Linked DNA regions of Homo sapiens. The protein of the gene in region 7 purifies or fractionates together with the protein of the main gene of each other region. This does not show direct contact. Each region holds a gene or a part of one and is shown on either strand. Other genes may lie near its edges. The genes, in order: KIF13B, DCLK1, NAV1, TANC2, ZBTB21, KIF1C and INPP5E.

Region 1 (3,500 bases), on a different chromosome or scaffold from region 7:
GCACACCACCATGCCTGGCTCACTTTTGTATTTTCAATAGAGACAAGGTTTCGCCATGTCGGCCAGGCTGGTCTCAAACTCCTGACCTCAGGTGATCCGCCCACCTCGGCCTCCCAAAATGCTGGGATTACAGGTGTGAGCCACTGTGCCCGGTCAAATTTCTCTGCTTTAGAAACTTGCCTGTCATTGGCTTATGATTGTATTTCTGGAGGATTCGCCATGTCTTAGGTTATGTGTAGAACATATAATAGACCTGCTTTTTCTGCAGGGAAGATGGTTGAGGATATGTCTGAGAATATATAACAACATGAGTGATTGAAAGTCAGGAAAGCTAAGTTTATGCCAAATTGTCTTTAAAGTATTAGGTGGTATAGTTAAGATGACAGACAACATTACCATATAGAACAACATTTGAAGTTTATTATGTTGTAACTCTCGATCATGTATCTTTTTTAAAAATGTGTTTAGATCCGATGCAGTCCATATTAAACAGCTTAGAACAACAGCATGAAGAAGAAAAACGATCTGCACTGGAGCGCCAGAGGCTTATGTATGAGCACGAATTGGAGCAGCTCCGGAGAAGGCTGTCTCCTGAGAAGCAGAACTGCCGGAGCATGGACAGGTTTTCTTTCCACTCGCCCAGCGCTCAGCAACGCTTAAGACAGTGGGCTGAGGAGAGGTAGGCGGCACAGAGGGGCCTGTTAACTTTATAGCTCAGGCTTGCCACCTCTAACACACCTAGGGAAAGTGTCAAATGGGAACATTAAGATGGTGCTTACAAAAGAATTATGTTAAAAGATAAGTGTTAACAGCCAAGAACCACTTTGCATTTGTTTTTAAAAGGGGAATTGCCCATTTATATTGCATTATTTAAAACTGTTGGTGTTAGGTGTTGCTCCATTTTCAGTTGGTATGGCTTTTGGATTTGGATATAGAAGTACACTTGATCATTGTATTATGCTTTAGGTTCTGAAGCTTGGGTAGATGATTTTTAGAAAAACAAAGTTGGTTATCTGGACTGATTAGCTCAGGTAGGTAAAGCATGGTGCTGATGAGATGCAGATTGCAAATTTGATCTCTGTATGGGCTAATTAGCATTGCATTGAAATGCCTTATCCCATGGTTGCAGACTGTACTTCACTAACCTCATACTATTTAAAGTTTGGTCTGCAGGCAGGCAGCTTCCCTTTTACCTGGAGATTGATAGAAATGTAGGATTTCAGGCCTCCACCTCAGACCTGCTGAGACAGAATCTTGAGTTGATGAAGATCCCCTGGTGATCTGCATACAGGGGCACTGCTGTTATCTACAGCCGGCTTGCTGTGTGGCTGCTTTCCAGTGCTTATCGTGTAGTTGAGGTTCAAGCGTGTGCATGGGTCAGTGTCAGCAACACAGTCCCTGCGTGCAGACGACCACGGAAAAAGCTCAATTCACACTTTGGCAATGATGTACTACCACTGTATGATTTTCTGACTAGCTGCTTTGTGTTAATCTCTTCCCTACCTCTGCCGCTTCTTTATTTTTTTTTAGAGAAGCAACGTTGAATAACAGCCTGATGAGGCTGAGGGAACAAATTGTTAAGGCCAATCTATTGGTGAGAGAAGCTAATTACATTGCTGAGGAGCTGGATAAAAGAACAGAATACAAAGTTACCCTACAGATTCCAGCCTCCAGCCTGGATGCCAACAGGAAGGTGAGGTTGCCGTTCCTTGAAAAAAACAAAGATCTCATTGGATAAGATCGCCTGATATTTCCTGGTGTTATTTAAGCTTCAGATCCCTGTCTGTGCCTGCCCCAAGTCCAGATCCTTTGTCCTCCATGCTTTTGGGTAGAATTGACTTCCTTTTCCATTCTCTACCTTTGAGTGTATGTATATTTTATCTGCTAGGGGAATATACTCTGCATCTCACCTGGCCCTGACAGTTCATTTCACTCAACTTTCTTCCTTCAAATCTGTTTAAATTCTTTCTTAGAAGTCTTTTCTGATTAATCTTCCCCGAATGTCTTTTTTTCCTTCCTTATGCTACCACTCTACAACCCCTTCTCCACAAGTTAGGTGTTCATTTTGCTTATGTTATTTTCTACTTGGAATAGCTTGCTCTGTAAAACTGCTCATTAGTTGTGTCATGGTGTCATGTATATATTCAGGATCATACTTTTTTTGGTATAATAAATTTAATAAAATGTAGGGGGAAAGTCCCATCACAATCTTCTATCTTTGCCATTCAGTTGGGTTTTTTTCCTTCATCTTTTTTTTTTTTTTTTGAGGTTCTTTTCTAGCTCTTGATCACATTCATACATAATTTTTGATGGATTAGGTAGAATTTTCTATTCAGATGAATTTTTTGTGGATCCGTGTGTTCTGTTTAGCCTGCGGTAGTCAACACAGCAAAACTTTAATCAATCCATCTTGGATATTCTATTTTTCTTTTTTTTGTTTGAGAGGGAGTCTTACTCTGTCACCCAGGCTGGAATGCAGTGGTGTGATCCTGGGTCACTGCAGCATCTGCCTCCTGGGTTCAAGCGATTCTCCTGCCTCAGCCTCCTCAGTATCTGGGATTACAGGTGTGTGCCACCACGCTGGACTAATTTTTGTATTTTTAGTAGAGATGGGGTTTTGCTGTGTTGGCCAGGCTGGTCTCAAACTCCTGACCTCAAGTGATCCACCTGCTTTGGCCTCCCAAAGTGCTGGGATTACAGGCGGATATTATTCTAATTTGATAGCAAGGATTACATCTTTCCCTATGACATCATAGCATCAAGGTCAGCGTTTTGTACAGGGTTAGATATTTGGCAAATATGATTCTTAGTATTTTGAGAAAGGTATTGTAAATATGATATGATCGTTACTTTACAGATCATTGTTTTTGTATACTCTGTGTGTATTTTGAAAATTTTTACTTAATTAGAACACTAGTATTTGTAGGGCAAAGTCTGGGTACAGTAGGACTCACCAAAAACCGAAGAGGAAGGCCAGTCACAAGGAGAAGGTTCAGGGCCTAGTTTCTCCTTGAAGGCTGAGAAGTACAAGATCCTCTTTGATTTTATAGTGTATAAGTTGAAAAAAGCAGAAACCTGAAAGATTTTTCCCCAGTAAGCATGACCGCAGCCCTTTTCTCCGTAACCTCTTTTGGGCTTTGTTGAAAGGTGTGGCTCTGCACTGGGGCAGCCATGTCAACGCCTGGAAGAACTCATGTCGCCTGGCATCTCTCCTTAGTTAGGCTGACTCTGTAGTCTTTCGTGCAACAGACTATTTTTTGGTATTTGAAAAGTTGTTTAAAGTCCTGTCCATTCTGTGAACTCTTCTCTGGTGAATTTTTTTCTTATTTCCAGTTTTGCAAGAGGGCTAAGTTATGGTAGCTGCACCATATTGCCCGTTGCTATTATAGTCCCAGGTCCAGCATTCTCCCCCAGGAAAGCCACTACCCACACAGGTCACAAATGGGATTTTTGTATTTATTCACTGGCTGGCTGAATATAAGGTAGGAGGGCCTTTAATT
Region 2 (4,080 bases), on a different chromosome or scaffold from region 7:
CTTATGGGTCTATTGCTGACCCCACTGAAGGTCTGGGGAGGGAGAAATGAAGTGTGATTTAAACCTGGAGTGTTAATGAGTTCAGTGTACTTTTTTCCCTCCAAATATGAAAACTATTTCTTGCCTCTTAATAACTCATAGTAGTCAGAATTTGCATTTTTCAAAAACAGTTATATATAGGCAGCTCTGAACTGGTTTCATTGATTTTGATGTTAGATAACTTTAAAACAATGATCCCTTGATATCCAGTCCTGTAGGCATTAGTTGTTAAACAGAACCAATTTTTGTCCAGGATATTGGTAACTGCTCTTACTTTTTAATTTATATGGTTTTAAAGTGAGCTCTCTTGTCTTCTAAAAGGGAGTGTGTCTTGGGGGTGGAGTGGAAGACACTCCCAGTACTCACACCAACTCACTAAGTTCTTCAACATTTTGTAAATTATAAAGGCCAAACTCACTTTTGAAGTTTGTGTTTTATTCTTAAAGGCAGTGATCATTCTCCCAACACTAGGAGTTTGGGGATTTCCTTCCAAATTGATATAAACTAAAAGAAAACAAGCAGGGCCATAGGGAAGGATGGCACAGTTCTGTTACCAGAAAGAGTGCACATCGAATTCTCAGTGACTGACAATTGGCAAAGGCCAAATAATTTGGCAATAGTTAGAATTCCCTGGGGGAACGGGCTTTTAGGACCAAGAATTCCCACACCAGATGAAAAAAGAAGAAAAGAACAATTTAAAATAGAAAAAAGGTTTACTTTGTTTCATTTTATTTGCATATTTCCTCAAACTGGATCACAGGTTCATCCAGGGCAGGGCTACACCTTTTACTTCCCTTCCCTGAATCTGTCCAAAAGTGGGCAATGGTGTCGACAAAAGAAACCATACTCAGAGTGAAATCATTTTCAAGGCTACAGCTACCTCTAAATGGAGCACACTCCACACCCTAGTGTGCTGGTAATTATTCGTGGCAACAAAATAGGTGTTCTTTCCCTCACCTTGGCTTAGTCATACATTTGAACCATGCATGAGCTTCTGAAGATCCACTGGCCTTCCACAGGTTTACACTTTCTGCACAGGAAGGCTGCGAGAACACACAGCTCAATGTTCAGAGACCATAGGTGGCCAAGGGCCTGAGTGCACATGTGCAGTGGCACCAGGATGGTAACCACAGCACCTCAGCCACAGCGACCACAGACACTGGAGGTAAGAAGGGCCACTGGCTCTCATCAGAGCTTTTCCTATAAATCCTGCCATTTCAAGAAACCAACATCCCTGATTGTTCTCGGTGGGATTTCTCACCATTTTGAGGAATCTATGTTCATCCTTCTCTAGATGAGCACATGGTTCTTGTTTCAGAAATTTACACACATATATACCAAGAAAAAAATGGCATAAATGCTACCACATCTAAATAGATGCTGGACCTGGAAGTCCCAAGGCATATTTTAACCGTGGGATTAGGATTCAGGTGGACTGGCATGAAATAAAACGCACACATACCTTCCAGGCCCGTGCACCACCACGGACGTAGACATCACAGGGTGTGTGCATATCTTTTATAATTTTCCTCTATATGACCTCTCTTAAAAAATCCCTTCTGACCTGCATCCATGTGACATTTCATACTTAAAACGCTGTCCTACTTTCCTTTCCCACTGAAAGGCAATATATTTAGGAACAGTCATAAAATGTATTCACGGAACAGCCTGCAGTGTGGTCGCTGAACGTGTGTGCACCGTGCCTGGACACACTCACAGGTGCAGCAGAGAGGGAGCCGGTTTGAATGAAACCTTTCATCTTCTCTCTCACCGACCAAGCATCTCCTTGCCAAATCCAGGAGCAATTCCGCGCAAACCTGGTTTTCAAAAGCAGCCTCTTTTGTGGGGCATTGCGGGGCTGTGCGTGCGCTCCCACTAGGAGGAAAAAATGCCATTTCCTCTCCGCAAGCTTTTAGCACTGCAGGTACTAATTTGAACATGAGGCAGCCTCGCTGTCCCTGAAGGAACTTGAGACCCTGCAAACGTACTTGCAACACCCACGCTGCAGCCACCACCACGCACGAATCGACCCCATCCACAAGCACACATCACTGGCCCGGGCACACGGAAAAGCACACACACAATAAGAGGCCGGGCCCGGCCACTCCTTCCTTGGTTCCCGCTCCGCAGCCAGTTCTGACAATGACAAGCACCTCTCCCAGCTCCTCCGCCCTGGCTCTCCATCTCCACTAACAACGCGAAAAGCCTGGGAGGGCCCGCTCGCCTGACTCCAGGTTTAAAGCCCCATGGCACCAAACAAAAGAGGCAGGTGCCAGCAGCCCCGGGGCCGCCCGCACGCAACGCCCCCGGGTCGGGCCAGGCTGGCCAGGGCAGGGCGGCCGCCTTTCGAGGAACTGCGGGCGGGGCGGCGGGGCCAAGCTGAGCGCCCGCCCTGCCCTCGGCGCCCCGCGGCTGCGGGCGGAGCGGGCTCTGCGGAGTCCCCCGGCCGCCCTCCCCGCAGCTCCCGTCCCCAGGGAAGGCAAACCACGCACCGGTCCGCGGAGAGACGCCGCCGGGGGTCTTTGTGGCCGCGCTGGGGGCCGCCTCCTGGTGCTGTCCTCGCCGGGCTGGGCGCGGCCGGGGCTGCGGGGCTGCAGGGCTGGGGGGCGGCGGCGGGGCCGGGCTGGGCGGCAGCAGCTGCTGGAGCGCGGCGCCTCGGTTGCGGCCACTAGTGCAGGGATGTGCCTCGGCCCGTCCTCATTGAAATGCGGCGCTTCGCACAGCCTCACTCCAGCCTCTCTCTCCAGAGGAGGGCGGCGGCGGCGGCGGCGGCGGGCGCGCTCCCTTTTCTTGTCTCACTCGCTCACACGCCCTCCCGTCTCCCTCCTCCTCCTCCTCCTCCGCGTGCGCGCCCCGTCGCCCCCGCCCTTCTTGGCAGGGCGCACCCACCACGGCTGCGCCCCAGGTCCTCCTCCCTCCCAGCGCCCTCTTCCCACCGCAGCAACCTCGGTGCATCTGGCTTGACTACACCCCTAAACCTCCCTAGTCCCCACAAGTAGTCTTTGGGAGATGGGGGCAGATCAGATGGTGGAAGAGAACGTGGACAGGGCTGAGTCTGAGCCAGGAAGTGTGCAAGGCACAGAGGTGATATGGCCGAGAGATGAGGCCCCCACCGTCGGGGGAGGGAAGGAGGTACCCACACTCATACCTTTTGATGTGACCTCACGGTCTGACACCTTTCCCAGGGTATGGAAGCCAGTGGATCACCTTCTCATCCTTTTTGCCCGGGATGCACCCACGCAGTGCCTCTTCGGATGACCAACCCTCCCAAGCTATGCACTCTGGTGCCCCCCACATTGGGAAGAGCTGGATCTGTTCATGGATCCCACCCATCATCTCCACTTAACCCCAAGACATGAGTCACTCTTGGAATAGTGACCTCTGCTTAGAGTCAAATATGTTCCAAAGGGCCCTTGAGAACTGAAGGGCCAGGTTTCACTGCTGGACACTTTGTGGCTGCCAAGGCTGGGTCTGCGGTGGAAAGCCCCATGAGCTCATGCGAGCCTCTCCTCCCAGAGGGGGAATGTTCTCCTAGCCCAGGCTGTTCACAGCTTCCTCCAGTCTTTGCACAAAAGTCCAGGGAGTGGGAGCAGCTCCCAGATTTCGGTGAAATCTTAGACTGGCTCAGTACGCAGCCTGAATTTTGATCCAGTTAATCTGACTTTCAATCCTGTCGTCCACAACCTGTGTTTGTCCCAAATACACATGAGTATACAAAATACACATAAGTATTTTTCTCTCTTCCTGAGCCTACACCTTTCAATGGAACATTAAAATTTTATTTTTCTCTTGCCCATTGATCCCAGTTATGTGTTTGACTACTTATTATTAAAAAGTTCTATTCTGAAATACTTTCCAAGTATGATGTAAATGTTAAATAATTACCATTTGTTTTAAAACACAGCTCAAATGAGATCCATGCTACATATTCCACAAGTGATGCGATATTTATTTTTGAACTATTTAATAGCCCAGAGATGAGAGTACAGTGAACTCACCAAATTAACTAAATGCAAAGTAGTAAGCCTATTCTTTCACATT
Region 3 (2,672 bases), on a different chromosome or scaffold from region 7:
GCATCAGCAGCCTTTGGGAACTTGTTAGAAACGAAAATTCTCAATCCCATCCCAGATCTGCTGAATCAGAAACTCTAATGAGAGGACCCGGCAATCCACGTTTTAATAAGCCCTCCTGGTGATTCTGATGCACACTAAATTCAACTGTTTTAAAGGGAAAGCCCTTTATAGTATTGGAGTTCCCACACTGAGAGGCTTTGGGGCCCAAAATAAGAAGGTTCTAGGTTGTCATTCAGACTTTAACATTAATTTCAAAGTCACCTTTCTCATGCTTCCTTGTGTTTCTGTTTTTCCATTTATGATTTTAACAAAGAAAGGTATGTGTGCTTTTGGGTGGAAGTTAGGAGAATGTTTGTGTCTTTCCTAGTTGAATACAACCTTCAGAGAAAAACCTTATGCCTTGGAAATTACTACCTGGCACACAAAGGGGCTTCAACAAGGAAAAGCAGTTGGAGGTCTCTTCCAGATTGCTCTTCTGCCGAATTATTTGTATCTATTCCGAGCTGATTATGTAATAGGATGGAAAAAGTAAAAAAAAAAAAAAAAATCTAATTTGTATTTCCATGACAACGTGTTCTCCCAGCAACATCCCTCTCCTTTATTTGAGTTATAAAGGGCACTGCTGGGCCTGAGAACCAGGCCAGAACCTCCTTCTGTATGGCAGCTAACAGTGTAGGGCTCCAGTATCCCAGGAAGGCCCCTTATCCACACTCCACTCAGCTCATAGGAGAGTCTTGCATAATGAAGACACAGACCTGGGCACTTCAGTCCTTGTGCTCCTCCTCTCTTTTCCCCACAGCAGGACCTGGATACAGAAGTACTCAGCCAAGGTGACAGAATAAAATCCTTTTTTTGTTGTTTTCTGTTTGTTTGTTTGTTTTGGAGAAGGAGTCTCGCTTTGTCACCCAGGCTGGTGTGCAGTGGCACGATCTCGGCTCACTGCAACCTCCGCCTCCCAGGTTCAAGCGATTCTCCTGTCTCAGCCTCCTGAGTAGCTGGGATTACAGACGTGCGCCATCACGCCCAGCTAATTTTTGTATTTTTAGTAGATACGGAGTTTTGCCTTGTTGGCCAGGCTGTGCTGGAGCTCCTGACCTCAGGTGATTCACCTGCCACAGCCTCCCAAAGTGCTGGGATTACAGGCGTGAGCCACAGCACCCTGCCAAATAAGATCCTTTTTAAAAAATATCTGAAAAAAGCTTCATATCTTTACAAACTCATAAAATAGCTGATTGGGCCATGGAGGAGATGAGGCTGTTTAGAACTGGTTTTGTTTCAAGTTTGTCAATTTTCCCTGTATGAGAACTTGGGTAAAGCACAAAGAAACATACAGTGCTAGTAACAGGTCTCCTGCGCCCTGGAACTAAGTGTTTGGAGGAAGGACTAAACCCCGGGGGAGGTGAGTATAAAATAATTCCACTAAGATCACCTCCTCAGTCCCCAGAAGGCTGATGGTGGATCCTCTGGCCATCTCCTGTGGGGTCTTACTGCTCCTCTGCCATTTCTCTATGCCTGAAGACACGAAGATGATATCAAGGCAGAGCTACCATATCGCAGCCAGTCTCTAGGCTACTGCTGTGCAGTGGCTCCCACTTTCTAATGCTTTTTTGTTTTTGCTTTTTCTAACAAAACAATCTTTTTTCAAAATGAATTCCAACCCCTGCTAGCTTCCTTCCCCGCCTCCATACTGTTTTAGGCAGCACCGTTTATGTGACAGAGTCCGTGTTTCTCAAATGCATGGTGTTCCTCAGGTGGAGAGTGGGCAGAAGTTTTTGCAACACTTTTTTTTTAAGTTATTGGGTGCAAAATCCCAAACCAGGATATGTGTATGTCTGTGTGTTTATGTTTTTTATTTGACCCTCCCCTCTTTCAACCTACCCCCTTTTATATCTAATGTAGAAAAAGCGAAATTGAATCTGGAAAGCAAACTGTTGTATATAGTTGCGGTAACAATCATGAAGAGAGAGCCGGGCTGTCCCCTCAGTAATTCATTTTAAATAACAAATTATTTAAAAATAAAATTCATGCCAGAGCCAGCTGAAGAGGCCTTCCTTCATCACCACTGAGGCCACCCCCAATCTGGGCCCTCTGTCCATCTGGCATGTCTCCTCCCAGCAAGATTCATCTGTTCAATGCCATTTGCGTTTCAATAAAGTTATCTCCTGTACTGTCCACTGGTTCTCTAGCTCCCTCTCTGCCTGGTTTCTGTCTCCATTTATCTTGTGGCCCATTCCTTGATTGGCAAGGCCAGACTGCTTGTGGTCATTTGCCTAACCCAGAAGTAACCTGAAACCCTAAGCTAGAGTCTCCTGACTCCCATGGTTGGGGGTGGGAGGAACCCCTGCTCGCACATTATGGACATAGAATCCTTCACCGGATCTCAAAACATCCAGCCCAAACATCAAGGCTCCGGAGTCCTCCATCTGGGTTGCTGCAGTGTTTGAAAACATACCACCCTCTTGACTTTGCTAAATTTTCTTCTTGGGGTAAAAGTGAACTGACCTATTAGAAGCTGTTGTAATCAAGTTCAACTTCTTTTGGCCACTTCAAGAAAGTAAATAGGCTTACTATTCCCCATTGCAAAATTGAAGGGTCCAAGAAGCAATCTTTTCCCTATGAAATTGTAGTAACATAACTCATCTCTGCCCTCTTAACATGGGAGGTGACAAGTG
Region 4 (3,969 bases), on a different chromosome or scaffold from region 7:
CCAGGACAAAAAGATTTAGGGCCTATACCCTATGGGCAAAACACCTAAAATGTCAACAGTCAAAATGCCATTCTTTTTGGCCATCATAAGAGGGAGTAGGTATCACTGCTGCATGCCAGTTGTTTTTGACTAGAATATGCCAACCAGAGCTTGTTGGGGCAGGAGACGTTTTTCCTTACAAGCAGACTGCCTGTGCCCTGTGCCCTGTTTGCTACTTCACTGCCATGGAATGATCCGAGTACTGTATTTCAGAGCTGCCCCTTCCCCAGCAGCAAACACTCGCTGAGTCCATGTCTGGCTTCAGGTGGGAGGAAATGTTTCAGATGAAACTTACTCAATTCATACCACCCTGAAATGGAGGACAGAGGTGACAAACTTCAGTTTAATAGGTTTCTCACCAAGTTGTATGTTCCATTGGCCCAGGATTCTTGCACTAATGGGTTTCTATCACATCATGTCTATAAATGGGTGCACTTTACTGTTTGAATTTGTAACTGAAGTACTGGATATTTAAGTGTGAGTAATGTCTTCATTAGAAAATAGCAGAACCGCTCTTGTCTTTTAGTGTATTTTTCAAGAAAAAAGGAAAGGAAAGACATCAAGCAGTGGATCACAACATTTATAGCACAAGAAATAACTTGTATATAAGCATCAAAAAGATTAAGAATTTTTTAATATGAAAAATATTTGCAGTGATTTTAAAGTGCTTTTCCAGCAATGTTCTTAGGGACTCCTGAGACACGGTTACTTTATCTACTGGATCAGTAAGGCACACAATTAACAATTAACAATTAATGTTTATTTACAAAGTAAAGGGAAAACCTGTGTAACATGAGAATTTGGCATGACAAAATGGAGACCATTTTGTATCTGCTGTTGTATCTTGTCCGGGTTGCAGACGTGCACTATTAAAGTCCCAAGTTAATAGAGCACAAACCCTTCTCGCTCCTCCCCCATGTGCCCCTCTTTTTAGATGTGTATAACTTAAACTCGATGGCTCAGGAAAATTCCACTAATTAGAATCATGTACAGTACCCCAGGTCGTTGTCCAGATATACAAGTTTGCTAATGTAGTTAAGCCTGGATTATTAAACACTTTTCCTAAATTATTGTAAACAGAACAGCTTAGAGAAAGGTATTCTCAGTCCTTAATATTGTATAGTAGTTTATGAGCCCCTCTCTAAATATTGGTATTTTTATATTCCAGAGATGTACCCAATAGAAAAAATTAAAAATTAATCAGTATCTAATTTAATATCCATAAGTATTTTTCCTTAGATTTTAGTCACGTACAGTGGGCTATGTGGATGTCACTTGTGCTTCACCATAGTTTACCACTAGGTGTCACTGTGGCTCTGCACTGCGCTTGTTTTGTAGCAAAGAACAGCGGCATCCCCTCGGGAGAGAGGAGCTGCTTCCAGGGCAACAGGCAAGCGGGCTCAGAGGTTCAGGAGAAGGCAACAGAGGCCTGGAAGGGGTCTTCGTGCATCTGTGCCAGTTGTGCAAGACGAACTCTTTGAACACTACATGCTTTGGACTTCAGCCAGGCAGAGGCTGGAAGAAGGTTGACCAGAGCTCCCTTGCTCTGGTAGAGGGATGGGTACATGGAGAAGCCCCTTCTTCCCCATGAGCCTCCCTCCTGTCAGTTCCTCTCAGCCTCCAGCTTTTATAACTCCAGAAGCGTCACAGTTGGGTGGTTTGATTCAGAGAGAGTTATTTTTCTACTGCAGAAATGCCTTGGACAAAACCAGTGCTCACTGAATCTTTGCCACAAAATGGAATAGGCTATCCCAGGGGGCAAGAGGTGCCCGCCCCTGTGCCCAGCCTCCTCTTGATGCTCCCAGTGCCCAGCAGCCTCGCACACCCTGCCTGTCTGTTCCTGGGCTGCCCATTTCTCAAGAAACCGACCTGCAAAGGCAGCCGGCTGCTGCCTCCACACCGAGGGCTGTGCGGTCCTGCTGCTCGCTCACTGGGAGGTGCAGCTCTTTCTCCTCTTCCTCTAGGAATTCCAGACCGACCATCTACCATGACTAACAACAATGAACAAAGGGCTTAGGGGCAAGAGCTACCTGCAAAGACGTGTCATGGAACCCTTCACCATGCAATGCCTTGAACTCAGCTCTGGCTGCTCCCAAGAAAAGGTGGCTGGCTGGGGGCCTGGACACAAGCACAATGGGGCTGGTGGAGCCACTGTGCAGAGCTACTTGAATAATCACTGGGTTTTCATCAACTCCTTTTGTCATACAGACCACTCAAGGGCTGAAGTGTTGGTAACCTTCATTTCGGTGTCCAAAGCCTCACAGCAGGTGAGCCACCCTGAGATGCTTGTGGCCACATGGTGGCCACAGTCAGAGCTTTGAAAGTCAGTACCAAATGAACGCATAATTGGACACCAAAAATCAAGTGTTACTTTCATGTTTCCTCACCCCATCATCTCATTGCCTCCTGCTGACTCTGATACCGACGCTGAGCTGACTTGCCAGGCTGCCGCTGGACGCGTAGAGATCAGGCCAGCGCCGCGCTCATTTTTCCAGGTAGACCTACTCTGTGGAACGGAAGTGCCCTAGCTGCTTTGTTTTTGTAGCACTTGCTGGCTGAATTTTTCTTTTGCTAATCGCTAACCAGAAAGTCTGGTTAGAGGGGGCTCAACTCAATCCCTTTGGTCCCCAGCGCCAGACAAGAGTTAATTCTGGAAAATTCAGTACTTGAATGTACCTGCCTTATTGCATACCAATTTACTGGGGGGAAAAAAAAAGTTAAGAGATGCCGGCTCCAGATCTCCACTTCATTCACAGGTGATTTTGGAAATCCTGTAAGTTACACTTCCTGTTCTGGTTTTGTTTTGTTTTTTGTTTCCTTTGGCTGATTCCTGCTGAGTGAGGCCAGTTCCTCATCAGGCTCAGGGCAGGTGCCTTTTCAGGCGTGGCCTCCTTTCCATCTAGCACAGCATCTTTGTCTCTGTTCTGTCTCCTCCAAATCCAAGATGATTTTAATTAGTACAGACATGTACAGTCTACAATTAAAGAGTGATTTGTACTAATATGATTTTGATTCTTCCTCCTCTTTGCTGTCCTTTCAAGACACTTGCTGGAAAAAGCTTTAATGCACTTAGTTTTCCTTTAGGTTTTCTATGACTCAGATGTAAAGGACTTTCTCTGTACAGTATATTATCCAATGCATGTTTGTTCTCTCTCCTGATATATTGAACACCACACAGTTGTGAAGCCGTGCAGTGGGGATGCCCCACACCCCACAGAGGCATCTACCCCTGTGTATAAGGAAAGACATTTTCCTTTGCTGTACTTGCTTGAGCAGTTTTATTGTCTGTACATGTGAGCTGTGTGAGATAGATGTGAAAAGTTCAAATGAATGCATTTTCCTGCCCCATGTATACAGATTGTCATCTGTACAAGGAACTGTATGTATGAAAGCAAATGTACTTATTTATAAATGGCTAACACTTGGAAAACCATGGTGTTGTGATGCTTTTCTCCTTCCATTACAGCCTCTTCAGGGAGCTGGCTTTTAAGCTTACCCTCCTGAGGATGCAGTGATGGGGGCACCCTCCCTCAGGAGGAATTGGGCAGGTTAGGGCTAAGGCCAAATTCCCGATGATTTGCTTGGTCTCTTGTGGGACATTCAGAGCCACCCCTTTGTGCATTTATTTGCTCGGTCACGTTATTGAGCACCTCCTCTCCTCAGAGTTGGACACTGTGGTAGGCCCTCAAGAGAGCTGTGGACAAGAGACGCCGTTCTAAGGAGCTGTCAGCACAGGCCTGTGACATTTGTTGAGAAAGGGGGGCTTTTTCTTCATTGGAAGAGGTTTCTCTCTAGCTATACCCAGGGAGCACTGAGCTCTTGTTTCATTTTGTAGCTGAAGCTGCACCCAATCCAGCCACCCTACCAAAGCCAAGGCTGAGGTGGGCTGCCAGCTTGAGTGGCTGTGTTTAGAGGCTGCATGCTGAGAGG
Region 5 (3,500 bases), on a different chromosome or scaffold from region 7:
TATTTGGGAACTGATCCCAGGAAGCACAAGAAAGGAAGTAGGGACAGTAAGGCGGAGATGGAGGCTCATAAAGGGTACATTGATGAACAGGTTGCTGCTCACGTGTAGGATATCAAAACTGAATTCTTTAAAAAATCTGAACTCCTGGTTTTTCTGTCAAACCCCATCTCTCCTAAGGATGCCCTTCCAGTTATTTTGGCAGAATACTTAACTCCACACCTTCTGTTTTCTCCTGCAGTCTGTCCACTAGAAATTCTAATGACTCTGCCTTTACCTCCGTTGCTACCACCCTGGTCCCAGCCACCATCCTCTCTCATCTGGGTCATTACAGTGGACTGCAAGCTGGCCCGCAGCTTCCCCCATAACCTACCCTCTGTTGTCTAATCTCAACAACAGAGCCAGAGCAATCCTTTGGAAATGTAATTCAGGTCTTTGTCATTCCTCTGCTCAGAATCTTCAATGGCTGTCCATTTCATCCATAGTAAAAAATAAAGTTCTTCTGGAGGTCTCCCAGCCCTAGACGGTCTTACTTCTTATTGCCTCTCAGATGTCATCTTACATGGCTCCCAGCACACACTGCTCCATCCCTCCTGTTGCCTTAGCTTCTCCCTTTGTTGTGATGTTCTTCCTCCATTTATCTCCATGGCTCATCCCTCGCCTCCTTCACACCTTCTTTGATCCCATTTTGATGAATGAATGACATGAGAAGTTTCTGGTATAGTTTGTAGTGTAGGTTCCTGTACAGTTAGGTGCTATATAAATGGTAGCGACTATTATTATCTTATTTAATTCCCACAATAGCATTATGTGGTAGCTGCTAGTATTATCCTTATTTTATGGCGAGGTAAACTGAGGCTCAAAGAGGTTGGTTAGCCTAGAACAGTGGCTCTCAAAATATTTTGACTGACCCACAGGAAGGAATACATTTTACATCTCAATCCAGTCCATGCTTGCTTATGTGGGTATGTACATATATATAATAGAAACAAAAGTTTCTCAAGCTCATAATTAGCCTTATGACATTTGATGCATTCTGATATTTTCTACTCTGTCCTAGTCATTTATTTTTTAATTGCTAGTTTTAAACCACCAAGTTGAGTTTAAGAACCCCTTTTGACAAAGACTATCCAAGCCTTTAAATCTGTACCTTTAATTCTGTGTTACAGCTTTTCCCTGTGGCAACATCTGAACTAGCTTTGTCAAAAATTATTAGTGCTAAAAACTCCTCAGTACCCAGCTGAGTCAATACGTGTAACATTATAAGCTTATGTCTTTTTCTGCTGATCTCTGTAAAAGATGGTAAGGGTTTCTTCATACAAATAGATGTAAAGAAAGTATAGTAGGATTAAGGAAAATTTAAATGACTAAGAGAAGAAAAAGGAAGGGAAATTATCAAGTAGTCACAAATAGAATAATTTTTTAAAAAAATAGAGGAATTAAAATTTACCATTTACTTTGAAAGGATGGTAGGCGGGAGTGGACAGAAACTTGGTACAGTCTGACCAAAGTAGTTGTTTGTGGACAGGCTAAAGGCATCATCTCTAGAAGCAAAGTCCTGTGTCTCAGTCGGTTAAATTGAGTCGCATCTTATCAGGGAGTCAGAAGGAATTGTATACCGTGTGTGGCCACTCCCAGGTTGACAGCCTAGGAGACTCTGGGCTCTTCCTGAAGAGCCTGGTGGCTGGGGTAACCAGCAAAGGCCAGAAGAGAACCTACAAATGAGCTGGGGTCAAGTTTGGTTCATCTACAGTTTGCCCGCTAGAGAAAGATAAAACCGTCACAGATAGTTACTTGGGATTCATGTAATCTTAAAAATAAATGTCTTAACAATATTTGAAAGAAAATATGGCATTATAAAATGAAAGGGATGAGCCAGCTGTGGTGGCTCACACCTGTAATCCCAGCACTTTGGGAGGCCGAGGCAGGCAGATCACGTGAGGTCAGGAGTTCGGGACCAGTCTGGCTAATATGGTGAAACCCCAACTATATAAAAATACAAAAATTAGCTGGGCGTGGTGGTGCACGCCTGTAATCCCAGCTACTCAGGAGGCTGAGGCAGGAGAATCGTTTGAACCCAGGAGGCAGAGGTTGCAGGGAGCCAAGACTGAGTCATTGCACTCCAGCCTGGGCAACAGAGCGAGACCCTGTCTAGAAAAAAAAAAAAAAAATGAAAAGGATGAGGTGTTAGAGGAACAGAAGCCTAAATAAAGGGTCAAATACACAGAGTCAGGCATTGTCTCTGCATGAAATGGCTTTGTCTGCATCGAGAGTATGGTGGGGTTAATCTGCCCACTTTCTTTGATACTGAATTAGATGCCTATTAATCCTGCAATTTCTGAAAGTTAAGTGCACATTTGTTGAGTTTTCTTTAGATGAACTCTTTGCAACAACCCTGCAAGAGGAGGGCACAGTTGTCATTCCTAACTCAGGTGAGGGATCTGCCACACCGAGAGGCTAACAGAAACACCCAAGGACAATCAGCCAGCCTGCAAGGAACTGGCATCTCAACCCAAGTGTCTGGCACCAGAGCTTGCACTCTACCACTAGGCCTCCTCTTCTCATGTTTAGATTTGAAGAGCATTTCAGTGAAATATCAGTTTAAACTCTTTAATTAAATTTAGAACTAGGCTAAAGTTTCCTTTGTGCTATTGTTGAAAATGTGATTTGGTAAGAAAATAGTATTCATGAGATTGCAAGGCAAATAGCATAAGAAAGAAAACAAACTTATTCTTCAACACTTCTAATCTTTTTTTTGTTTTTTTGTTTTTTTGTTTTTTTTTTTTTTGAGACAACGTCTTGCTCTGTCAACCAGGCTGGAGTGCAGTGGCGCAATCTTGGCTCACTACAACCTCCACTTCCCAGGCTTAAGTGATTGTCATGCTTCAGCCTCCTGAGTAGCTGGGATTACAGGCACATGCCACCACCCTCGGCTAATTTTTGTATTTTTAGTAGAGATGGAATTTCACCATGTTGGCCAGGCTTGTCTCGAACTCCTGACCTCAAGTGACCTGCCCGCTTTGGCCTCCCAAAGTGCTGGGATTACAAGCGTGAGCCACCGTGCCTGGCGTAAACACTTTCATTAGTAATTAGCAAATAATTTTTTGCTTTCCAAATTCTTTTCTATTTTTAAAGGTCTCTTGGCCAGGCTCAGTGGTTCATGCCTGTAATCCCAACACTTGGGGAGGCTGAAGCAGGAGGATCTCTTGAGCCCACGAGTTGGAGACCAGCCTGAGCAACATAGTGAGGCCCCATTTCTAAAAATAAAAAATAAAAAAAATTACCCAGGTGTAATTAGTCCATTTTCACAATGCTAATAAAGACATACCTGAGACTGGGTAACTAACAAAGAAAAAGAGGTTCAGTGGACTCACAGGTCCATGTGACTGGGGAGGCTGTGTAATTATGGCAGAAGGCAAGGAGTGCAGGGCACATCTCACATGGTGGCAGGGAAGAGAGAACTTGTGCAGGGGAACTCCTCGTTATGAAACCATCAGCTCTCC
Region 6 (3,476 bases), on a different chromosome or scaffold from region 7:
AAGCATACTGCGCTTACCTGATTGTTTTCATCCTGGTTGTGTTACCTGCCTTCTGGCAGGCTACATCATTGTTCCCAGTCGTTATTTTATTTGTGTTAAGACTGTTTGTTGGCCAGGCGCAGTGGTTCACGCCTGTAATGCCAGCACTGGGAGGCCGAGGCAGGTGGATCACGAGGTCAGGAGATCGAGACCATCCTGGCTATCATGGTGAAACCCCATCTCTACTAAAAATAAAAATAAAAAAATTAGCCGGGCATGGTGGCGGGGGCCTGTAGTCCCAGCTACTCAGGAGGCTGAGGCAGGAGAATGGCATGAACCTGGGAGGCGGAGCTTGCAGTGAGCTGAGATTGCGCCACTGCACTCCAGCCTGGGCGACAGAGCGAGACTCCATTTCAAGAAAAATTAAAAAACTGTTTGTTGCCTGCTTGTTTTAATGTTCTGGCTTGAGGCAGCGAGCCCTTGACTATGCCACATTGCCAGGATTTTGCAGGTTAGATTGTACTACAGCACTGCCTTTGGCTTGCCAGACTCTGGAGTCCCCACATTTTCATCCTGTTCTCAGGAAAACACTTTGACCCACTTGAAGCTCTGAGCTACTGCTTCACAGCTTCCTGGGGTCAGTCTCCAGCCAAAACCATAGATATCCCAACTGCAGCCAAACCACGGCTCTGGGCGAAGGAACGATTAGGTTTACTCTAGGTTTCCACACCCTGATGCTCCTGCCTTTACTTTGACACCTCTGACTGCCAGGTTTTCACAGACCTGTTGACAGTGACTCAAGATCTGGAATGTAATGGATGGTTTGGCAACAGTGTTTGCTTGAGCAGTTTAAAATCTGGCCAGGGAGACTCAATGTGAGCAAGAAAATGATAGAATACCAAGTTTTCTGGAGGTCAGAGGGAGCTGAGTTGAGTGTTACCGAGAATGCTGTGGGGTTTGAGATGAGAAAAATAGCTTGCTAATTTAAAAGACGGATTATTTTTCCCTAAAGACCTTGACTTATGTAAATGTATATTATCCATAATTTTAAAAATCCACTTATGGCTGGGCACAGAAGCTCACACCTGTAATCCCAGCACTTTGGGAGGCTGAGGCAGGAGGATCAGTTGAGTCCAGGAGTTCGAGACCAGCCTGGGCAACATAGTGAAACCCTGTATCTACAAAACATAGAAAAACTAGTTGGGTGTGGTGGTGTGTACCTGTAGTTCCAGCTACTAGGGAGGTAGGAAGATCACCTGAGCCCATGGAGATTGAGGCTGTGGTGAGCTGTGAAGGCACCACAGCACTCTGGCCTGGGCAAGAGTGGGACTCTCTCAAAAAAAAAAAAAAAAAAAAATCCACATATCCAGCCTTCCAAGTCAGTCTTTAATAATGTGCACGGGCCAGGCACAGTGGCTCACACCCGTAATCCCAACACTTTGGAATATTAGGGTGGGAGCATCACTTGAGGCCAGGAATTTGAGACCAGCCTGGGCAACATAGTGAGACTGCCCCCCCCATCTCTACAAAAAATAAAAATCAAAAATAATACTGTGGGCAAACTTTACTTAGATTTTATTCAGAGTAGTGCCTGTTTATTTTTCATCTGTGCTACCTGTGCCGGCATTCCATATGCATTTGATTTAGTCTTTAAAGTACCCCGGTAAAATAGGTCTTTTGTCTGCATTTTTCAGATGGGAAGACTGAGGTTTTGTTTATTTATTTTTATTTATTTATTTTTTGAGACGGAGTCTCGCTCTGTTGCCTAGGCTGGAGTGCGATGGCACAATCTTGGCTCACTACAACCTCCGCTTCCTGGGTTCAAGCGATTCTCCTGCCTCAGCCTCCTGAGTAGCTAGGATTACAGGCGCCCACAACCGCACCCGGCTAATTTTTTGTATCTTTAGTAGAGACAGGGTTTCACTATGTTGTCCAAGCTGGTTTCGAATTCCTGACCTCAGGTGATCCACCCGCCTCTGCCTCCCAAAATGTTGGGATTACAGGCGTGAGCCACCACGCCCAGCCTATTTATTTATTTTTTTAGAATCAAGATCTTGCTATGTTGCCCAGGCTGAACTCGAACTCCTGGGCTCAAGCAATCCTGCCTCCCAAGCCAAGCAGCTGGTACTGCAAGCATGTGCCACCGTGCCTGGCTCCTGAAGACTGAGGTTGGTTTAGATTAATGAGTTGCCCAAATTCAGACAGTTCTTAAGTGGCAAAGTTAGGATTCCAACCCAGGTCAACATAACTAAAGCCCAAACCCCATCTCACCCCTCTAGGCCATCAAGTATTGGCTGGGTGCGGTGGTTTATGTCTGTAATCCCAGCACTTTGGGAGGCGGAGGCGGGAGGACTGTTTGAGCTCAGGAGTTTGAGACCAGCCTGGGCAACATAACAAGACCCTGTCTCTACAAAAATATATAAATTAGCCGGGTGTACTGGCTCACACCTGTAGCTACTTGGGAGGCTGAGGTGGGAGGATCGCTTGAGCCTGGGAGGTCAAGGCTGCGGTGACCTGTGATTGCACCACCAGGAGACCCTGTCTTAAAAATGTATATATAAAAATAAAAAGAACATCAGACATCACCATCACCTCGCTTAGAATCCATGGGGCCTTCTCCTCAAATTCAATCTTCCCAGGCATTTCATGAACTTGCGTCTAGTTTCTGTTCCCTCTCAAATTGCCCAGGCTGTCCTGTGAGTGACAGCAGCTATTTCGTGGGCCTCCTCTGGAATCATGAGAAGTCACCCAAACAATCTCAGTTTTCTAGCTCACTCCGTCTTGACATTTCTACACTGTCATCCTTGGTTTTCTTGGAAATTAATTTGCTTTTCTTCATTGTCTTTCTTTGGAGCTGCTTTCCTTTTGTTGGTTACTATTTTATTTTTAGCTTCTCACACCATACCGACATATGTTGGTTATTCTTTTAGACATGTTTTTTGTTGTTGTTGTCACCTGGAACTTTTGTATCTTGAATAAATTTGGGGATCAAATACATTTTTTCTCCACCAGTCTTATTTATACCTTTCTATATTCAGAGCTTCAAATTTGGTTTGGTTTGAAATTGTTCTCCCCCCAACCTTTTTTTTTTTTTTTTTGAGATGGAGTTTTGCTCTTGTCGCCCAGGCTAGAGTGCAGTGGCATGATCTCCGCTCGCTGCAACCTCCGCCTCCCGGGTTCAAGCGATTCTCCGGCCTCAGCTTCCCAAGTAGCTGGGATTACAGGCATGTGCCACCATGCCCGACCAATATTTGTATTTTTAGTAGAGATGGGGTTTTGGCATGTTAGCCAGGCTGGTCTTGAACTCCTGACCTCAAGTGATCCGCCCACCTCAGCCTCCCAAAGTATTGGGATTACAGGCATGAGCCACCATGCCTGGCCTTTTTTTTTTTTTTTTTTTTTTAACTTTTATTTATTTTCGAGAAGGAATCTCACTCTGTCGCCCAGGCTGGAGTACAGTGGTGCCATCACAGCTTATTACAGCCTCAACCTCCCAG
Region 7 (3,500 bases):
CGGTCTGTTCTAGAATAGGAGTCGGCGCACTCTTTCTGTCAAGGGGGAGACACAGACAGTGGGGACCAAAGGGCGTCTGTGTGCCAGTGAGTCTATTAGGGACATACATTGGAACCTCGCTCTTTTTTCTTTCTCTGCCGTTCCACACAGTAAAACCCATTCTGAGTTTGCGGGCCGCGTGTGCACGGGCTGGGTCCGCCCTGTTTGAGAATGGCTGCTGGCTTTTGCCAGTGCCTTGGGGCTGCCAGGGCGGGTTAGGGGGCCTTTCCCCACCCGTTCCTTTTGCTCGGAGAGCTGGCCCAGGCTGTGGCAGCCAGCCTGAGCGTCCTCATGCAGAAGCTGTGCAGTGTCCTGGCCCTGGATGGGGGTCCGAGGCAGCTCTGCCCCTGCCCGTGTCTAGACACAGGAATGGCTGTGAGGGCCGCCCCTGGCCTGCTGTTACTAACCATGCTCTGGACAGAGCTGGGCAGACTGACCACGTGGCTGCTGGTGTGGACATGATGGGCGCTGCCGGCAAAGGGGCCGTGGGCCTCCAGCCTGGTGACCGAGGAGCCCCTGCTGGGCCCGGGATCACTTGACAGGGGTGCCCACAGGAACGCTCTCTGTCCCGAATGACCACTGTGTGAACACAGCTGTCCCGACCGGGATTGTCGACAGTTTTAGGGGTGAGGTAGCGAGGTTCCTCCCTGCTGACATGATTTAACGTGTCCAGTGAAGCTTGGTGAGCCGCAGCCAGGGTTGAAGAAGTTCTCGCGGGAGGTCACAGGAATCCGGCACTATGCTCTCGTGTCCCCTTGCGGAAGGGAACCATGTCAGAAGACGGCGTATCCAGAAGGAGCCGCACAAGTGTTACTTAGAGAGGGAGCGGGGAGGACGGCTGGCAAGCCTAGCCCACGGCGTTTCTGTATAGTCGGCGAGCTGAGAACGGGTTTTACATTTCCAAATGGTTGGAAAAAGTCAAAACCATTCTAATGATGTTTCATAGTACAAGAAAATTGTAAAATTCAGATTTCAGTGTCTGTAAATCAAGCGTCTCGGGCACACGGCTGCACCCCTTGTGTCCACATCCCCTGGTGGCTCTTGCACCACCGTAGCAGAGCCCACGGCGACAGACACTGGATGTCCCACGGAGCGGCAGGCGTGTGCGGTTGCCTCTTGACGGGTTACCAGCCCTCGTGGCAGAAGGTGCTGAGTGTGGGGAGGGGCAGGGACGTTGCTGTGCCACACGGTGTTTAACCATCTGTGTGCACCGCCGTATTAAAATCTGAAAGCATCAGCCTGGACAACGTGGCGAGACCCTGTTTCTACAAAAATAAAAAATAAATAAATAACTAGCCGGGCGTGGTGGCACTGCACCTGGAGTCCCAGCTACTCGGGAGGCTGAGGCAGGAGGATCACTTGAGCCCGGGAGGTAGAGGCTGCAGGGAGCTGTGTTAGTGCCACTGCACTCCAGCCTGGGCACGGAGTGAGACCCTGTCCCCACTAGAAACCAAAACAAGCAAACCCAAAAGTGCGTCAAAGCCACGGGGTGTCGAGGAGATGGACGCGTTTCCGTGTGGCTCGTGTGGTCTCTGTATCTTAGACCGTCCTGCCTGGTGCTGGGGCCAAAGGAGAAAGGAGGAGGACCAGCCCCTCCCCGAACAGCACCCTGTGCCCACTGCCTTGGCTTATAGTTTGGGAGCTCCTCTCTGTGGCTTTTCCAGGATCCCACCACCAAAAAGCCCAAACCGTCACCCTCTCATGCCTCTTCCCGGGAGGTAGGGAGGGGGTGTGAACCCGCTCTGGGTGTTTGTGCAACCAGGTCAGGCCTTGTGTTCCTGGAGAGCAGACAGCAGTGCCGCGGGGGCCAGGAGAGTCCTTGCTTGGGGCTGGGGGCAGCTCCTGACATTCCATGGGTTTTGCTATTGTCCCTGGGGACCTGGCCCAGACCCCCAGGGATGTGTCCTGTGCCTGGCCCTGAGCTTGGGGTCCTCCCGTCACAGGAGTTACCTGGAGGGCAGCCTCCTGGCCAGCGGGGCCCTGTTGGGGGCGGATGAGCTGGCCCGCTACTTCCCAGACCGGAACGTGGCACTCTTCGTGGCCACCTGGAACATGCAGGGCCAGAAGGTGAGTGGCTGTGGGTGGTGCTGGGCGGGGAAGGGTGGGGTGGTGCTGGACAAAGGCGGGTGAGGGGGACGGGGCAGCTCTGTGCCTCATCCTGGGGCCAGGAGGGCAGAGCCCCGAGGTGCACCCCACTGCTAACCGCAGTACAGGAGGGTGAGAGTGGGTAAGGACCCCCATCCCCCAGAGCTCCCACCTGCACCTCCCTGGCCACGTGGCTGCAGAAAGTAGGGGAGGGGGTTGGGGCAACGGGCCTGGCCGAGAATCACCTGCTCAAGGTGAGCGGGAGGGCGGCCAGCGGGGCACGCGTAGGGGTGGCTCAGGGACAGGGTGGGCAGCACGGGCTGGGGTCATGGTGACGGGAGGGTCATACAGGGGTGGTCGTTGGACAGACTCGTGCTTGGAGAGGGAAACAGGCCGAGGGCCAACGTGAGGCGTGTTTGGTGTGTCAGAGGCTGCCTCGGAGACCGGGCAGCTCCCTTTTTGGCCCTGGCCTCAGTTTCCCCTCATTCGGAGGAGTCGCTGGTACTCAAGGCACCGCAGTGGGATTCACCCACAGGCGCCTGCAGGTTTCGGGAGGAGCCGGCCCACCACATGCTCCCTCCTTCCAGGAGCTCCCGCCCAGCCTGGACGAGTTCCTGCTCCCAGCCGAGGCCGACTATGCCCAGGACCTGTATGTCATCGGGGTCCAGGAGGGCTGTTCTGACAGGTAGGGCGGCTGCAGGCCCTGCAGTGCCTGCCCAGGGGCTGCCGTCTCTGAAGCAGCTGGGTGCTGAGACCTGTGGTCATGGCTGGGCACGGGTCTGCAGTGCCTGCCCGGGGGCTGCCATCTGTGAAGCTGCTGGGCGCTGATACCCGGTTCGTGGCCGGGCACAGATCTGCAGTGCCTGCCCGGGGGCTGCCGTCTCTGAAGCTGCTGGGCGCTGAGACCCGGGTGGCGGCCGGGCACGGGCAGCCTCCACGCCTGGGTGGGAGGCATGGGTCAGATTTTTTTCCAGTGGCAACTCGGAGAGTTTAAAATCAATGAGATTTGATTTTGGTAACAAACTGTTGGCGTGCGAGAGTAGAAGGGCAGCCGGAGCAGGGCCGGGCCCCAAGGCCTCCCGGGCCCCCATGTCATGGCGGGAACAGCAGGTGGCTGCCGCCCACACAGGTGCTCTGGGGGAAGGAGTTGAGGTGGGCCCCACCTCCCTGGCCCATGAGTCCCTCAGGCGGGAGGAGCTCTGCTCACTGGGGTCTCGGCGGGGGTCCAGGGGAGCCACTCAAGTGGAACTGGGGCCTGTGGCCCCCGGCAGGTCCCAACTCTGGCCCACCAGGCCTTCTGGCAATTGCTTCTCCGCGCAAGACACCAAGGCCAGGTCGTGGGGTTTCCCTGGTAGCTCCTCGAGGGGCTCTGGGCA

The links.
Region 1: the proteins of INPP5E (region 7) and KIF13B purify together in Homo sapiens (affinity purification with mass spectrometry, with the first as the bait; one large-scale study listed by BioGRID). This does not show direct contact.
Region 2: the proteins of INPP5E (region 7) and DCLK1 purify together in Homo sapiens (affinity purification with mass spectrometry, with the first as the bait; one large-scale study listed by BioGRID). This does not show direct contact.
Region 3: the proteins of INPP5E (region 7) and NAV1 purify together in Homo sapiens (affinity purification with mass spectrometry, with the first as the bait; one large-scale study listed by BioGRID). This does not show direct contact.
Region 4: the proteins of INPP5E (region 7) and TANC2 purify together in Homo sapiens (affinity purification with mass spectrometry, with the first as the bait; one large-scale study listed by BioGRID). This does not show direct contact.
Region 5: the proteins of INPP5E (region 7) and ZBTB21 purify together in Homo sapiens (affinity purification with mass spectrometry, with the first as the bait; one large-scale study listed by BioGRID). This does not show direct contact.
Region 6: the proteins of INPP5E (region 7) and KIF1C purify together in Homo sapiens (affinity purification with mass spectrometry, with the first as the bait; one large-scale study listed by BioGRID). This does not show direct contact.

Annotation. Positions count from the first base shown.
Region 1 is NC_000008.11:29,144,571-29,148,070, reverse strand, and holds part of KIF13B (kinesin-like protein KIF13B), read left to right. Parts: intron 1-468; coding exon 469-679; intron 680-1,530; coding exon 1,531-1,693; intron 1,694-3,500. UniProt on the Homo sapiens protein: Involved in reorganization of the cortical cytoskeleton. Regulates axon formation by promoting the formation of extra axons. May be functionally important for the intracellular trafficking of MAGUKs and associated protein complexes.
Region 2 is NC_000013.11:36,128,583-36,132,662, forward strand, and holds the start of DCLK1 (serine/threonine-protein kinase DCLK1), read right to left. Parts: upstream 2,801-4,080; 5' UTR 2,532-2,800; intron 1-2,531.
Region 3 is NC_000001.11:201,824,798-201,827,469, forward strand, and holds the end of NAV1 (neuron navigator 1), read left to right. Parts: 3' UTR 1-2,172; downstream 2,173-2,672. UniProt on the Homo sapiens protein: May be involved in neuronal migration.
Region 4 is NC_000017.11:63,424,235-63,428,203, forward strand, and holds the end of TANC2 (protein TANC2), read left to right. Parts: 3' UTR 1-3,469; downstream 3,470-3,969. UniProt on the Homo sapiens protein: Scaffolding protein in the dendritic spines which acts as immobile postsynaptic posts able to recruit KIF1A-driven dense core vesicles to dendritic spines.
Region 5 is NC_000021.9:41,996,861-42,000,360, reverse strand, and holds part of ZBTB21 (zinc finger and BTB domain-containing protein 21), read left to right. Parts: intron 1-3,500. UniProt on the Homo sapiens protein: Acts as a transcription repressor.
Region 6 is NC_000017.11:5,025,426-5,028,901, forward strand, and holds the end of KIF1C (kinesin-like protein KIF1C), read left to right. Parts: 3' UTR 1-2,976; downstream 2,977-3,476. UniProt on the Homo sapiens protein: Motor required for the retrograde transport of Golgi vesicles to the endoplasmic reticulum. Has a microtubule plus end-directed motility.
Region 7 is NC_000009.12:136,433,346-136,436,845, reverse strand, and holds part of INPP5E (phosphatidylinositol polyphosphate 5-phosphatase type IV), read left to right. Parts: intron 1-1,982; coding exon 1,983-2,106; intron 2,107-2,711; coding exon 2,712-2,809; intron 2,810-3,500. UniProt on the Homo sapiens protein: Phosphatidylinositol (PtdIns) phosphatase that specifically hydrolyzes the 5-phosphate of phosphatidylinositol-3,4,5-trisphosphate (PtdIns(3,4,5)P3), phosphatidylinositol 4,5-bisphosphate (PtdIns(4,5)P2) and phosphatidylinositol 3,5-bisphosphate (PtdIns(3,5)P2).